3 separate regions of the Homo sapiens genome follow, and all the other regions are linked to region 1. The links come from fine-mapping of genetic effects on gene expression. A gene starts in region 1. Each other region holds a variant in brackets. All regions are shown on one strand. Distances are from middle to middle.

Region 1 (5,377 bases):
GCTGAGCATGGTGGAGCGCGCCTGTAGTACCAGCTACTTGGGAGGCCGAGGCAGGAGAATTGCATGAACCCGGCAGGCGGAGGTTGCAGTGAGCAGAGATTGCGCCATTGCACTCCAGCCTGGGCGACAAAGCAAGACTCCGTCTCAAACAAACAAAAAATTATCTTCTACAATCCTCAACTTCCTTCTTAGACTGTGTTCTCTAGATTAAAAATGAAGACTTCCACTATTTAGTAATGGCACTAGATATCAGAGATTTTTCTATTATGCAAAACACTGTATTGAAACAGTGCCTGAATAGATGCTTCAATTTTTAAAACTGTTACTTATAATACTATAAAAATCAGTTAATAATAGAAAGTCAACGAGTTGACAGTGACATACTTCTAATTTGTCAATGAATATTTAGCCAACCAATTTAAGTTAAACAAAAAAGAAATAATACTGATAAAAGAGGCAATAGTAACTTGCTGCTCATATATGTTTCCTTCCAGGTTTTCTAAAAATTGCACTGAATCAAGCTTCATTTTTATTCTTCAGCCATATCCCTGACTCCTCAGGAGAACTGAGGTTTTTTTTTTCCCCAAATGAAAACTTTTGAGTTTCTAAAGCTCAAAAATGCAAAATCTGACGCACATGGTTAAATGAGATGTGGTTATCAACTTACACCAAGCCTAACTTACCACAAAATAGAAAATATCAGAGAAAGGAGTTCACAAGCAGAAAACCTCTGCTTTCTAACTCACAATAGAGTCTTGTCCAATATTAGACAACACTGCGTTTTGTTGTTGTTTTAGCTACAAGGAAGGGTATGCAATATGCAGTAACTATTCCAACAGCTTCAAGCAAGTCATCTGCTACGACTAGAAAAAGTAGCAATTAGGTCCCAAACAGCAAAGACATAAAAAAGATGTAAGCAGAAGCCTCACCATCTGAAAAGAAGGCCCATCAGCACCTCTTCCGAGAAATACTTCCCTTCCCCCACCTTTAAGTAGGCACTTGAGACTGCCAAGATCCATTTCTTTATTAACTGGTGCCCACTTGGGGCAACTGTACACCAAGCTGCTCTTAGGCCTACTCTAATCCCTTCCAAAAGTGCTCAAATGAGGCTACGGCCGGGGTAAGTCCCGTCAGGGCCCAATTCTTCCTGACTCCTCTTCTCCACCCCACCTCCTCCGCCCCGCCCCAGTAGGCGATCGCCCGGCCAGAGAAAGGACACCCGGCCCAGGGACTGGCAGAAATTGCCCGCAAGAGAAGGCTTAGGCGACCGAAGGCCTCCGCCATAGCAGGACTTGGGAAGCACCGCCCCCAGCGCACCTCCCCACACCCGGCTAATCGGCGAACCTCTGCTTTCGACACCCTCTATCCCCAGCAGAGGCAGCGGAGAAGACAAGGCCGGGAGGCACCGGGCTAGGCTGCGCACCAGGCCCAGGCCTGTCCCTCGGGACCGCGCGTGCCGCCTGAATCCGCTCCCCCGTCGGGCCCGGTCCAGCTGGCGCGGCGGCCACCCTCACCTGGATGACCTCGTTGACCTCCCGGATACATTCCACCATGTGTTGTAGAATCTGCTCGGCCGTGAGCACCTCGTAGCGGTAATCCTCCTCCTGCTCATGCCCCGGCCCGCCACCACCACCGCCGCCGCCGCCGCCGCCGCCACCGCCGGGCCCCAGAGCGCTGCCGCCGCCACCGCCCGTCTCCCCGCACAGCAGTCCGTCCCGCTCCCCGCCGACGCCCAGCCCGGGCTCCACCAGCTCCACCTCGCCCAGATCCAGGGTATCATCGTCCGGCTCGTCGTCGTCTTCGTCCTCCTCCTCCTCGGCGCCGCTGTCCTCCTCACTGCACTCCTCGTCCTCGTCGAACTCGTAGTTGTAGCCCTCGTCCGAGTCCATGGCGCGACGCGCGGGGGCCCGGCGGACGCTGGCCGAGGCGGGGAGAGGGCGGGGACGCCGAGGCCCCGGCTCTCGCTCCGGCTCCGGCTGATGTCCGGACGCAGGCCTGGCTCCGGCCCCGCGAGCCGCGGCTCCTCCCCAGGAGCGGCGGTTGGCGTTTGACGGCTGGTGGCGGCGGGGAGGGCGCGGAGGAGGGAGGGAGGGAGCGAGGGGGCCGCTTGCTGCCCGCCTCAGTCAGACGCGGCTCCGCTCCGGCCTCCGAGAGAAAACAGTCCCCAACGCCACCTCCACGGCCGCTGCTATCGCTACTGAGCCAACAAAGGGGCGTGCGTCACCGCGTCGCGCTGCGTCGTCGCGTCACTCCTCTTTGCGTCACTGCGCCCCGCCCCACCGCCCCTGCGTGGAGCCCGGGGAGACCCCACGGCCCGGCCTTCCTGGGCCTGGGACCCGAGGGGAGCCGAGCGGGAATTGCTTTCCTGGTTCGATCCGCTGCCGCTGTGAGGGCCGAGCGGAAACCCGTAGACCTTTTATGTGAAGAGATTGCGGCCTCCTGGTCACCAGTCACCGAGAGAGGGACCCCTGGACCGCCTACGTGGTGGTGTCTGCCGCAGGCCATAGGGATCCAGCCCACTTAGGCAGTCCCTTGGGGACGCGGCCTTCCCTCCGGAGCGGAAAGGCGCTTCCCGCCCGCCCTGCGGTAATCCCGGAAGCCCTCAGCCGTTAAGCTAAAATTTCTGTTGCTTTGGCTACTGATGGAAACCTGTTGTAAGTGGAACCTCTAAACTGTATGACAGGTGAACCCACTTTAGGTAGCTGTGTGATTCTGTCCACTTGTACAGACGTGCAGTGGTTTTTAAGTCTCCTATAATGACGTCATTTTAAAGAGGCATTTCCTCCACCCCGCTGACAAGAGCGCCTCTTGAGGGCCCTAAACAATGTAAACAGCGATGATTTTCATGAATTGAGCACTGTGTAAGGGCTTTACATATATTCTGTCTCATCTTCACGGAGCCATAGTACCCATTTTATACCTGAGGAACCTGAAGCTCAGAAAGGAAAAGGGACCTGGCCAAGACCACATAACCCTTGCCCTATTTTAACCGCTGGATGCCCCAAAACATGAATCATAAAAATGCTTTGTAATGTAGATATATTATGTACTATGTAGTACATAAAAGACATGAATGCTTCAACAAAATACAGGCAATAATAGAAATATCTACAAGGGCCAAATGTAGCCAGAGAGATAATGCTTGAATCTCATCTGAAAGTGTGCTATGTGAGCTGAGTGTTGATGAATGGCTAGGAGTTCAACAGAGAAGGTAGGGAAGATGGTCTAGCCGCAGAGAACAAGCAAAAGCGCAGAAGGTGTCAAGTAAGTAATAGTTTGGGGAGCTTAAAGTGCATGGAGGGTACATGGCAAAATATTAGGCAAGTTAGTCAGGGGTCATGTCAGTTAAGAGCATTTTATGCCTAAGAGTGGGCTTAAATCTTTGCAAACAGGACATGCGAGCCAGAGAAGTGTTATGAAGGAAGAAGAGGCATAAGAAGGCTCCCTCTTGAGATAATCTGAAGAATTGGCCAGATTGAAAACCTTTTAAAATCAAAACCCCTGATTTGTTGATAAATCTTACTGTTCAACCTATAGGTTCCCTTTGGAAATTGATTTTGAAAAGTGAAAAATTCCATTATAATGTTAAAAAGCCTCTTCCAATTTGTCCATTTTGTAAGTTTTAAAATACCGATAATTATATTTCTTAACCTCAGGATTTACAAAGTAAAGCATTTAACCTCAATACTGGTAGTCTAGGTTTTTGTTGTTGTTGTTGTTGTTTGTTTTTTTCTTGAGACGGAGTCTCGCTCTGTTGCCCAGATTGGAGTACAGTGGTGATCTCAGCTCACTGCAGCCTCTGCCTCCCAGGTTCAAGCGATTCTCCTGTCTCAGCCTCCTGAGTAGCTGGGACTACAGGCGCATGCCACCACCCCAGGCTAATTTTTGTATTTTTAGTAGAGATGGGGTTTCACCATATTGGCCAGGCTGGTCTCGAATTCCTGACTTCAGGTGATCCACCTGCCTCGGCCTCCCAAAGTGCTGTGATAACAGGCATAAGCCACAGCGCCCAGCCAGGTCTAGGTTCTTTGATTCAGTGTTTCTATTTAGCAATTCTAGATTGCTGCCACAACTAAGGCAAGCCATGGACACAAGGAACACTTCTGTCCACCCCGTCTCCATTGTGATATTACCTACAGAAAAATTCAGTAACACTCGTCAGTACCCTAAACTCCTTTGCCTCACCTTTCTTTTCATTGTACCCCTATCTTGAATGAACCCTACCATCCATAGTCTCCACTTTGATAAATGGAGCAGCTGACCACTATTAGAGAAATGTGCATAGCCATCTGTATTCTATTACTACATTTCTTCTTTTTTTTTTTTTTTTTGGAGACACTCTTGCTCTGGCACCCAGGCTGGAATGCAGTGGTGCGATCACCACTGAAGGCTCAATGTCCCGGGCTCAAGTGATCCTCCCACTTCAGCCTCCTGAGTTGCTGGTACTACAGGTGCACACCACCATACCTGGCTAATTTTTTATTTTTTTTTACAGATACATCTCACTATGTTGCTCAGACTGGTCTGGAACTCCTGGCCTCAAGCAATCCTCCCACCTTGGCCTCCCAAAATGCTAGGATTACAGGTGTGAGCCACTACACCCAGCCTACTTAATTTCAATCACCAAGCACAACTCAACCTTCAATAATTCCCAGCAATCCTATTAAATTTTTCTGGATTGTTCTCCCACTCTCGACAACTCTTTCACACCTTTGCAGTTTCCTCAAACTTCAGCCCTGCCCTTTCACATCTTCTCAAAACATGTGACTTTTAGTCACAGAGGAATTTGAAAATATCAGGACCAATGTGACTTGAGACATGCTGAGCAAAGAAGAGGGTGTTAAGGGATAAAGTCAGAGAAAGCAGATCAAGGTAGGGGGCCAGTAGGGGCCTTGTAGGTCATCTTAAGAAGTTTACATTATTCCAGTGGCAATTATTAACGAGTTTTAAGCAGAAGAGTGAAACTATATGATCTGTGTTTTTAAAAAGATAACTGACTGCTTTATGGTGAATGGACTACGAAAACAAAGCAATTATGAGGCTATCTCAGTAGTCCAGGTAAGTAGATAATAGCCTGAACTAGGGTTGTGGCAGTGGAGGTGATAAGAAGTGGTCAGATTGAGATAGAATTTGAAAGAAGAGCCAAAATATTTGCTGGTGGCTTGACAGTGGGTTTGATGGAGGAAACAAGGATGCCTACTGTATTTGGAGCTTGAGCGACTGGGTGAATGGTGGCATCACTCACTGAAACATGTTATTTGAGGTGCTCGTTAGACATCAGGGTAGAGGTGTTGAGTAGGCAGTTCCATAAACTAAGATACAAGACTGAAGGTCAGGAAAAATTAGAGCTGGAGATACAATTTTACCAGAGTTTACA
Region 2 (5,377 bases), 120 kb before region 1:
AACACAACCAACTGGTAAGATATTTGTCTCTGTGGAGGGAGTAGAGGCACTAGGGGAGTTAAGATGGGAAGGTGTTGCTTTTCTTTATGATTCTACAAAATTTAACTTTGTATTATCCATGTACTTTTACTTTTGAAAACAGTTAATGAGGCCAGGAGCGATGGCTCACACCTGTAATCCCAGCACTTTGGGAGGCTGAGGCGGGTGGATCAACTGAGGTCAGGAGTTGGAGACCAACCTGGCCAACATGGTGAAACCCTGTCTCTACTAAAAATACAAAAATTAGCTGGGTGTGGTGGCGGGCGCCTGTAATCCCAGCTACTCAGGAGGCTGAGTCACGAGAATCACGAGGCAGAGGTTGCAATGAGCCTAGATCGTGCCACTGCACTCCAGCCTGGGCAACAGAGCCAGACTCTGTCTCAAAAAAGAAAAAAATACTAGCTAATGAAATATGTAAATAAAACCATTGTTTAAACTCCCATTCCTAACCAGGCATGGTGGCTCATGCCTTTAATCCCAGCACTTTGGAAAACCAAGGTGGGAGGATCACAGGCAACATAGCGAGACCCAAACTCTACAAAAAAAAAAAAGCCAGGCATGGTGGCACATGACTGTGGTCCCAGCTACTCAAGAGGCTGAGGCAAGAGGATCACTTGAGCCCAGAAGGTCAAGCCAGCAGTGAGCTATGATCATGTCATGGCACTCAAGCCTGGGTGGCAGTGAGACGTGTTTAAAAAAAAATTTTTTTTTTTTTTTTTGAGAGGGAGTCTTGCTCTGTCACCCAGGCTGGAGTGCAGTGGCACAATCTCGGCTCACTGCAACCTCCGCCTCCCAGGTTCAAGCAAATCTCCTGACTCAGTCTCTCAAGTAGCTGGGATTACAGGCGCCCACCACCACACCTGGCTAATTTTAGTATTTTTAGTAGAGTTGGGGTTTCACTATGTTGGCCAGGCTGGTCTCAAACTCCTGATCTCAGGTGATCCACCTGCCTCGGCCTCCCAAAGTGCTGGGATTACAGGCATGAGACACTGTGCCTGACCTAAAAAAATTTTTTATTAAAAAAATAAACTCCTACTTCTGAAATTCACTAGTGATATGAACAAAGTCACAAGGAATATACCTCCCACTCTAGCAAACAACAACAAAAGGCCAGATGAGCTAGAAAATAAAACATATGTTTAATTCATCAGAAAGCTAAGGACACAAAGAAATCTAGGTTGGGTGCAGTGGTTTATGCCTGTAACCCCAGGACTTTGGGGTGCTGAGGCAGGCAGATCGCTTGAGCTCAGAAGTTTGAGATCAGCCTGGGCAACATGGTAAAACCCTATCTCAACAAAAAATACAAAAATTAGCCGGGTGTGGTGGTACACGCCTGTAGTCCCAGCTGCTCAGGAGGCTGAGGTGGGAGGATCAACTGAGCCAGGAAGGCAGAGGTTGTAGTGAGCTGAGATCACTACAGGCTGTACTCCAGGCTGGGTAAGAGTGAGACCCTGTCTCAAAATAAAAACAAAAACCAAAGAAACCTAAATGATCCAAACTCCAGAAAGTGCCAAGTCCTTCATAGGAGAGAAGAGACCCCCTAGCTGTTGTTATTCCTAGTTGAACTATGGTAGGAAGAGGAATACTACAGGGGGGAGAAAAGAGAAACCTGCTGAAATTTAACAACATTTTCACAACCCCTTGGAGGCTGGTTTGACATTAGAACCTAGATGACCCAAATCCACAGAGGAAGGCTTCCCACCAATCTTACCCCTTAGATGATAACCAGGTACAGGAAGGTGTAGTACACTAAAGGTGTGGATAATAGAAGGAACGCTGAGAGAGCTTGACTTCTCCCAAGGGCAAAATACCCTTTAAAAATGAAAGGGGAGGCAGGATTGTTGTGAAATCCAACAGAGGCACTCTTGGAGCCTAAATGGGGTCAGAAATGCTGAGAAACCCATCCCCTAGGCATTGTGGGCATTCCTCTACAAAAGGGCAGGGCACACATGAGAGCTGAGAAAGATCCTCCTATCCCCAGCCCATTGATTAAAAAAAAAAATCCTGGCAGCAAGGTTGTAAAGTAGGGAAAGATCTCCCACATTGATAAAAGCTGGTGGCTTAGCTATGAAGCAAAGTCAGATCTCTGGAATCTTGCCAATGCCCAAAACTCAGGCCCTGGTGATATGAGAGTTCTGATTCTACGTTCCTTCAAATATTTGAAGCTAGAGGCAAACTGAATCAAACTAAAACTGCAGTGAAGCCCCAGTCTAGAATTCATATACATCAGATTGAGCCACCATTCAAGTGGCCTGAAAAAAAAACAAAGGGCATGCTCTGTTTTGGAAGTAAACATTTTCTTCAATTTCTTTTTTTTT[TC/C]AACATAAAACGTCCATCATCCAATCAAATATACAAGACGTGCAAAAGCAAGAAAATAAGATTCATGGTAAGGGAGAGGAAGGGCTCAATAGAAGCAGAACTAGAAAAGACCCAGATGTTGAATTATCAGTTTGGATCCTTAAAATAACTGATTAAAAATGAAAGAAAAAACAGAAAAAACCCAATAAAATAACTGATTAAAATGCTAAAAAGTAGAATGGAAAATGTGGAAAACATGCATGAAGAAATAGGAAATTTCAGCAGAAAATTGTAACTATACAAATATAATGAAATGCTAGAAATAAAAATATTAGAAATGAATAATTCAGTACAACTATGTATCCATAAATAACTAAAAATAAAAATTTTTAAATGGAGAATTCAATAAACAAGTTTAACAGGTTAACATTGGAAAGCATCAAAAAACTTAAAGATGGTTAAATGGAAAGTATCCAAACTGAAAACAAAAAGAAAACAGGGCAGGGGAAAAATCATCTGAGATCTGTAGGTTTATATCAAATCATCTAATATACATGTAACTAGAATCTCCAAAGAAGAGGAGAAGCAAGAGAGTATGAGACAAGAGAAAAATGTAAACGGATAACGGCCAAGAAAGAACCAATATTAATGAAAGACATCAACACAGATCCAAGAAGTTCAGTAAACTCTATACAAAGAAAAACATACCTAGACATTCCCTAGTCAATCTACTGAAAAGTAAATATAATGCACAGATGCAGCCATTGAGAACAACCACACATTACGGAAAGGAAATAAAAATTAAAATGATGAATGACTTCTCACCAGAAACAAATGAGGCCTGAGTACAATAAAATAACTTCTTTAAAGTACTGAAAGAAGAAATAAAAGGTCAACATAGAGTCCTATATCCAACTAAAATACCCCTCAAAAATAAAAGTAAGGACATTCTCTTATAGACAAAAGCTGAGAGAACTCATCTCTTATTAAAAACTGCAGTAGGGCCAGGCGTAGTAGCCCTACTACGCCTAGTGACCTGTAATCCCAGCACTTTGGGAGGCCAAGGTGGGCAGATCACCTGAGGCCAGGAGTTCAAGACCAGCCTGGCCAATATGGTGAAACCCCGTTTCTACTAAAAATATAAAAGTTAGCTGAGCTTGGTGACATGTGCCTATAATCCCACTTACTTGGGAGGCTGAGGCAGGAGAATCGCTTAAACCTGGGAGGCGGAGGTTGCAGATTGCACCACTGCACCACAGCCTGGGAGATAGAGCAAGACTCAGTCTCAAAAAAACAAAAACAAAGATGAAAAAAAAAAAAAAAAAACAGAAAAAACAAAAAACACTGCAATAGGCTGGGCACTGTGTCTCATGCCTGTAATGCCAACACTTCGGGAGTGCAAGGCAGGAAGATCACTTGAGCCTAGCAGTTCCAGATCAATCTGGGCAACATATCAAGACTCCATGTCTACAAAAATGAAAAAGAAAAATTAGCCAGCTGTGGTAGCGCACACCTGTGGTCCCAGCTACTCGGGAGGCTGAGGCAGGATGATTGCTGGAGCCAAGAAAGTTGAGGCTGCAGTGAGCCACGTTCATGCCACCACACTCCAGCCTGCGTGACAGAGACCCTGTCTCAAAACAAAAACAAAAACAGTCCATGAGAGCCAAGTGTGGTGGCTCACACCTCTAATCCCAGCACTGTAGGAGGCCAAGGCAGGAGGATTGCTTGAGGCCAGGAGTTTGAGACCATCATGGGCAACACGGCAAGATCTACAAAAAATTTCTTAAATTTGCCTGGTGTGGTGACATGCACCTGTATTCCTAGCTACTCAGGAGGCTGAGGCAGGAGGGTCGCTTGAGTCCAGGAGCTCAAGGCTGCAGTGAGCTATGATCATGTCATTGCACTCCAGCCTGGCAGCCTGAGCAAAAGAGTGAGACTGTCTCTAAAACAGCAACAACAAAACTGTCCATGGGCTGGATCTGGCCCATGGGCCACAGTTTGCCAACCCCTGTAACATACCATCTTAACAAAATAAAAAGAGAAATACATAATAATCTTATTAAAAGCTAAAAACGCATCTCACAAAATTTAATAACCCTTCCTAATAAAAATTATCAACAAATTAGGAATAGAAAGGAACTTCTTTGGGCTGGTCTGTGAAAAACTTACAGTTAACATTATACTTAGTGATGAAACATTAAAATCTTTATCCCTAAGATTAAGAAAACAAGGCAAGGTGTCTGCTCTCACCACACGTTAAACATTGCACTAGATATTGTAGCCAGTGGAGAAAGACAAAAAAAAAAAAAAAAAAAAAAAAAAAGAAGAAAAGGCATAAAATCAGAAAAAGAAGTAAAAACATTATTTGCAGACTACACTGTTGTGTATCTATTTAATATAAAACTCTACGGAGTCTACAAGAACTATTTCTAGAATAAATGAATTTAGCAAGGTGGCACGATTCAAGATCAGCATACAAAAATCAGCCAGGCACACTGGCACGTGAATAAAGTCCCAGCTACTTGGGTGGCTGAGGCATGAGAATCCCTTGAGCTCAGGAGTTTAAGACCAACCTGGGCAACATAGTGAGACCCATCTCTAAAGAAACAAACAAAAAATCAATTGTATTTCTAGATACTAGCAGCAAACAACTTAAAAATGAAAATTAGCCAGGCGCGGTGGCTCACGCCTGTAATGGCAGCACTTTGGGAGGCCAAGGTGGTTGGATCACGAGGTCAGGAGCTCGAGACCAGGCTGACCAACATGGTGAAACCCCGTCTGTACTAAAAATACAAAAATTAGCCAGGCATGATGGTGTGTGCCTATAATCCCAGCTACTCAAAAGGCTGAGGCAGGAGAATTGCTTGAACCCGGGAGGCGGAGGTTGCAGTGAGCCAAGATCGCGCCACTGCACTCCAGCCTAGCCAACAAGAGCAAAACTCCGTCTCAAAAAAAAAAAAAGAAAAAAAGAAAAAGAAAAGAAAATCAAAAATATTTTAAAAATCAAATGCTTAAGAAAAAGTCTAATGTAAGATAAGCA
Region 3 (5,377 bases), 69 kb before region 1:
CTATATCACTGGTTCTGCTCCAACTCTGTCCCCACATACCATATTTAACAATCTCCATTTGAATGGATTTGATTAAGTGAAAATCTTATCTTCTGAAGAATTCTGAGAGTTCCCTAGCAAATAGTATTAACGGTATTTTATGAGTGTTTCTGGATATTTAAAAAACACTTAAAGTTTAAATCTATTTTAATTTGGATGAGAAAGAATTCTACTTACTGCCTACTATTACACAATTCTCCCATGGTGATAGAATAAACTCCAGAAAGATTTAGGTCTATAAATGACAACTTGGACAAGTTGTTGCTGCTTTAAAAAACAAATGGGGGTTGGAGGTAAGAGGAACCAAGCTTTTACTCTTTTTCTTCCTTTCCTCACACTGAATACATTGATAGGTTATGGCTTAGAGGTTACTACTCCCAGACCCACAAATTTTCCTTTGTTTAAATAATGGAAGTTGATTTACCCTCTGAAATACAAAGTCAGCACTAGCCTTAAACTACCAGATACTCACCGAGTTAGGGTAGTTCAAGTAGCAGATCTGACAAGGCATATCCTGTGCTGATGACCTTGTATTCATCTGGCGTGTTCGAGACTTTTTACTTGGATTAATTACATGACACTCAGCAAAGAGCTTCTCCAGGTTTCCATCAAAGTACCTGCATTATTTAAACAGAAAGGATAAGAGCCCAGCAACTTGCACACTGTTAGAGCTCTCCAAAAACCTGACTTTCTATAGGGAAAAGCAAGAAGTTGAATTAAAATAAAACAAGATAACAACCTTTTTATTCAGAGGAAATAAAAGCTACATGGTACAAATTATAGCAAATAAAGGTGTGTGTATACATGTGCATATATATATATATTGCAAACAGCAAAAATTCAGTCTACTCTCATATATATGAGTGTGTGTGTGTGTGTGTGTATGTATGTAAACTAGTAGACTGAGTTTTGCTGCCTTTTTCCCCCTAAACTTTGGTTTTAAATAACTGAATCTTGGGAAATTAAGCTATTAGTATTTTAACAGTACTGCAACTAAAACTTAAGGATTAAAGTTGTGCTGTTGCTGGGGTACCTATGAAGAGTAATATTTTACATGGGTAGGCTGTATTTTATACAAATGAATTCATTTTATTAATAATTTTAGTTAAAGCAATTTAAACATATTAGCTTCAGTAAAGCATTTATCTTACTGCACAAATCATCTTAAAAATATAATTATTACGTGTCTCATTTTACATAATAGACTTGCTTTCTAAACATTATTTTGAAATATTTTTAATTTACTGAGAAAGGAGGAGGAATAAAACAAAGAAGTGTATCTTCAAACATTTTATATAAAATAAATTACATATTAGCTTTTCATAAAATATGTATCTAAATATAGAGTAGTTCCATATCTAAGACATCAAGAGTATATATATGCCAAGTACTACCTAGAGTTTTAACTAAATAGCAAACCTCTGGACAGAAGATAGTAGAGCAGACCTTAAGGTGGGTTGAGGTGGTTAAGATAACAGTAAATACTTAGCACAATGTTTCCAATTAATTCAGATGAGACATGTTCCCTGGCCTCCTGAAACAGCTTACTATTCAAAAGGGAAAAGCAATAGATATTAAAAAAAAAAAAACTTTTCAATCTGTAAAACCAATATAACCAGCAAAAATATTAATGTGCAATCTGGTCAATTACTTTTTGGGTTGTAAAGCCCAGATTACAGTAACTATAATGCTCTTTATATACAAACAGGAGATTTTCAATTTTAAAAGTAATCAATACTCAAAAGAAATTTCCAATATTTTTAATTAAGGTCTTGTTTAGGCTTTGTGTCAAAGGCTACTATATCTTACTGTACCTCCAGAAAAATCATTCAAATGAGAACAAACCATATCACTTCTCCTAAGACTAATAAATAAATATCTTTTTTATAAATACTTTGACTACAGCATAGTTCAATGAAATAATCATATTATCAATCGAAATGCCAACACATTATAAAAAGGAGGATTATCAGAAAGTTAAAAGTTGTCAGGAACTCATACAAATAGAAAATTAATGTCTCTGATGATTCAGATAATCAGAATATATTTAAAGCAGAAAATCAAATGCTTTCCTACAATTTTGAGACAGTCTCACTCTGTCGCCCAGACTGGAGTGCAGTGGCGCCATCTCGGCTCCCTGCAACCTTTGCCGCCCAGGTTCAAGCGATTCTACTGCCTCAGCCTCCCGAGTAGCTGGGATTACAGGCGCCGCGGTGGCTCACACCTGCAATCCCAGCACTTTGGGATGCTGAGGTGGGTGGATCACTTGAGGTCAGTAGTTCAAAACCAGCCTGGCCAACATGGTGAAACCCCATCTCTACTAAAAATACAAAAAAATTAGCTGGGCGCGGTGGCAGGTGCCTCTAATCCCAGCTACTCAGGAGGGTGAGGCATGAGAACCGCTTGAATCCAGGAGGCAAGGTTGCAGTGAGCCAAGATGGTGCCACTGCACTGCACTCTAGCCTGGGTGACAGAGCGAGACTGTCTCAAATTTAAAAAAAAAAAAAAAGATAATATAAAATACCAAGTTTTACCTGAAAAACTGAAAGCATAAGAGATTAACACTAAATATCAATTCATAAACCAGCTAAACACCTTGTTTTATAAAAATATTCATGCTCCCAAGACAAGACAAACTTCTGTCATCCAAAATTTGACAACAGGGAACTAATGACTCTCATACTTTGGTTAACATTCTAGACAGCATTCTATGAGTATACAGCCACACAGACATGTGTCCCTAATTTCATATAAGTAACACC[C/T]TAGTCCAGATTTATAACCTGCTTTTTTCACTAGACAATATCTAACAGACACCTTTGTCTTTAAATGTCTACATTTTTCATTTTTGCACAATATTCCACTGTAGTTATTTACTATAATATATCCAACCAATGTTATTCTGAAGGACATTTAAATGTGCCACATATAAATAATCCTAGATTAAAATCTTAGCCCATCAGATAGGGAAAAATACCTAGACTTAACTTGTATTTATTTATTTATTAGTGAAGGTGAACACATTTTTCTGTGGTGATCTTATTCCCTATTAAGTTCAGTATGCAAAGAGGAAGAGTAAATCTTTGTTTCATGGGTTGCTTTCTTTCATTTCTTTCTTGTCTTTCAACCTTCTTTAATAGTGTTTAATTACCACTTTAAAATTTTTATGTAGGCACATTTATCGTGCTACTCCACTGTGATTTCTGCAGTTCATATCACACTTTAAAAGACCTCTATACCCAAAGATTTTTTAATGGAAATTCATTAATGATTTAGATCTCACCTTTAAATTGTTTCCATTAAAACTGTTGATTTATTTTTGCGTAATAAGGAGTAAAGCCAGGATTCCATTTCATTTCAATCCAAAAATCTAATCACTTATTGAAGGGTTGTTTCATCTATTGGAAACACTTTTTCCCACCTTTAGGTTCCAGCTTACACCCAGCTTCCTCAAATAACTGATCTCTGACAGCTCCTCACTTCCACCCCCATTAGATAAGGTTCCCTTGAATTACATCCCATTGTTACTCTGCAGTCCTTTGCAGCACTTACAACATTACTAACTGTAATCACTCTTTATGTTTGCTCTGCTAGAATGTAAACCCCATGAGGACTACTTTATTATTCCTGGAGCCCTTAATGTCTACAGGCATGTTACAAGCACTTAGTTTCTTCTTAAAGAGTAACTGACTAATCTAACTCTCCCCACTGATCTGTTCACTATATACCCAAATTTCCTATTTAGACAAGTTTATTCCTGGACTCTCCATTCTATTCCACTAATTTGTCTGCTCTTGTAGTCGATAAATTCTCAATATTTGACAAAGATCCCTTTATCATTCTTCTCACAGAATTTTCTCTGTTCTTCCATATTTGTTTTTTCAAGTTAAGTACAATCATTAATTTTTTTTTCAAATCCTCTTGGAACTTTTACTACAATTATATCAAGAGTAAACTGACTGAAAGAATTGACTCTATAATATTGTCTTCCTAGCCAAGAACAAAGTATCTTTTAATTTACTTAATTCCAATTCCTATTCAGTCTCTCAATAGTTTTATAACTTTTTTTCACTATGTGGATCCTGCACATCTTCCAGTAACTTTATTCTCAGGTATTTCAAGTTCTTTTTGTTGGGAGAAAAGCTGAGTGTCGGGAGAGAAGCTGAGGCAGGGCTTGCATGCCTGCTAGACTGCTGGCTCCTTACTTCTAGCACTCCCATTATCTCAACTAGCCATATGTTTCAAAGAAAATGCTAAACCCTCACAGCTGTAGCTCATTCGCTTGATACACCGCTTCCTTTTAACCCCCACATCCTCACCACCTGTTTCTTTGTTTGATCACCAATAAATAGCGTGGGCTCCCAGAGCTCCAGGCCTTCGCAGCCTCCATACTAGCGTTGGCCCCCTGGTCCCACTTTGTCTCTTGTCTTTTCTCATTCCTTTGACTCCGCTGGACTTTGTCGCCCCCACAGCCTGGTGTTGGGTCCGATCACATCAACACTTTTACTATCAATCTGAATTCCTGTGCTTTAGATAGCATGTACTGGAGTTTGCAGCATTTTTAAAAATAGCGTATATTGGAGTTAATACCTTTTTTAAAAAAAATGAGTTAGGGTCTCACTATGTTGCCCAGGCTGGTGCACAGCAGTTTTTCACATATGCAATAATAGCATACAGCCTTGAACTCTTGGCCTCAAGAGATCCTCTCGCCTCACCTTCTTGAGTATAGGTGGGACTATACGTGCACACCACTACATGTGGCTTGGAGTTTATAGCTTTTTGATCCATTCTAGAAGCCACCAAAGGAACTTTCAAATACTGCTAAGTATTTTAAATGAAATATGAGTGGGAAGCTAAAAATCCACTCATATTCTTGGGGGTAGTAGGCCCAGAAATCTTTTTCTTTTACCAAAGTTTCATGTATTTGTTCTGATCTGTATTTATTATATGGTCCATTCACCCCTGACTCCACAATGTTTATTTGGAAATTACTAAAATCTAATTTAGTTTTACTAGGAGTGGCCTATGTAATTAATACTTAAATACATTTCTTAATTTATAAAACTTAAATAATACATTGATCATCCCTTTGGTTTTGGTCAGAACTTCCTAAAGCTCTTCCCAGTTGATTACAGTTTTATATAATTTTTTCACTAATTTTTTTTTTTTTTTTTTTTTTTTGAGACAAAGTCTCGCTCTTGTCACCCAGGCTGGAGTACAATGGTGCAATCTCGGCTCACTGCAACCTCCGCCTCCCAGGTTCAACCGATTCTCCTGCCTCAGCCTCCCAAGTACCTGGGACTACAGGCGCCTGCCACCACGCCCAGCTAATTTTTGTATT

Evidence for each region. PIP is the estimated chance that this variant, and not a neighbour inherited with it, causes the effect.
Region 2: its variant is the best candidate, but not a certain one, in a credible set for the expression of ARIH1 in whole blood (TOPMed, PIP 0.84).
Region 3: its variant is the best candidate, but not a certain one, in a credible set for the expression of ARIH1 in whole blood (INTERVAL, PIP 0.84).

What each region holds. Positions count from the first base shown.
Region 1 is chr15:72,471,152-72,476,528 of GRCh38, reverse strand. It overlaps ARIH1 (ariadne RBR E3 ubiquitin protein ligase 1), which reads right to left and starts at 2,199. Exons shown (of 14, transcript NM_005744.5): 1 at 1,515-2,199. The coding sequence starts at 1,889. It overlaps TMEM202-AS1 (TMEM202 antisense RNA 1), which reads left to right and starts at 2,290. Exons shown (of 4, transcript NR_135678.1): 1 at 2,290-2,654. RefSeq lists enhancers at 1,076-1,285, 2,736-2,835 and silencers at 1,836-2,065, 2,108-2,304, 2,156-2,495.
Region 2 is chr15:72,594,095-72,599,471 of GRCh38, reverse strand. It overlaps ARIH1 (ariadne RBR E3 ubiquitin protein ligase 1), which reads right to left. Exons shown (of 14, transcript NM_005744.5): 14 at 1-5,377. Among named protein-coding and RNA genes, the nearest start is that of MIR630, 9.6 kb to the right of the region's middle. The variant TC/C (reference allele first, on the strand shown) is at 2,358.
Region 3 is chr15:72,540,099-72,545,475 of GRCh38, reverse strand. It overlaps ARIH1 (ariadne RBR E3 ubiquitin protein ligase 1), which reads right to left. Exons shown (of 14, transcript NM_005744.5): 3 at 512-656. Among named protein-coding and RNA genes, the nearest start is that of MIR630, 44 kb to the left of the region's middle. RefSeq lists a silencer at 4,272-4,472. The variant C/T (reference allele first, on the strand shown) is at 2,802.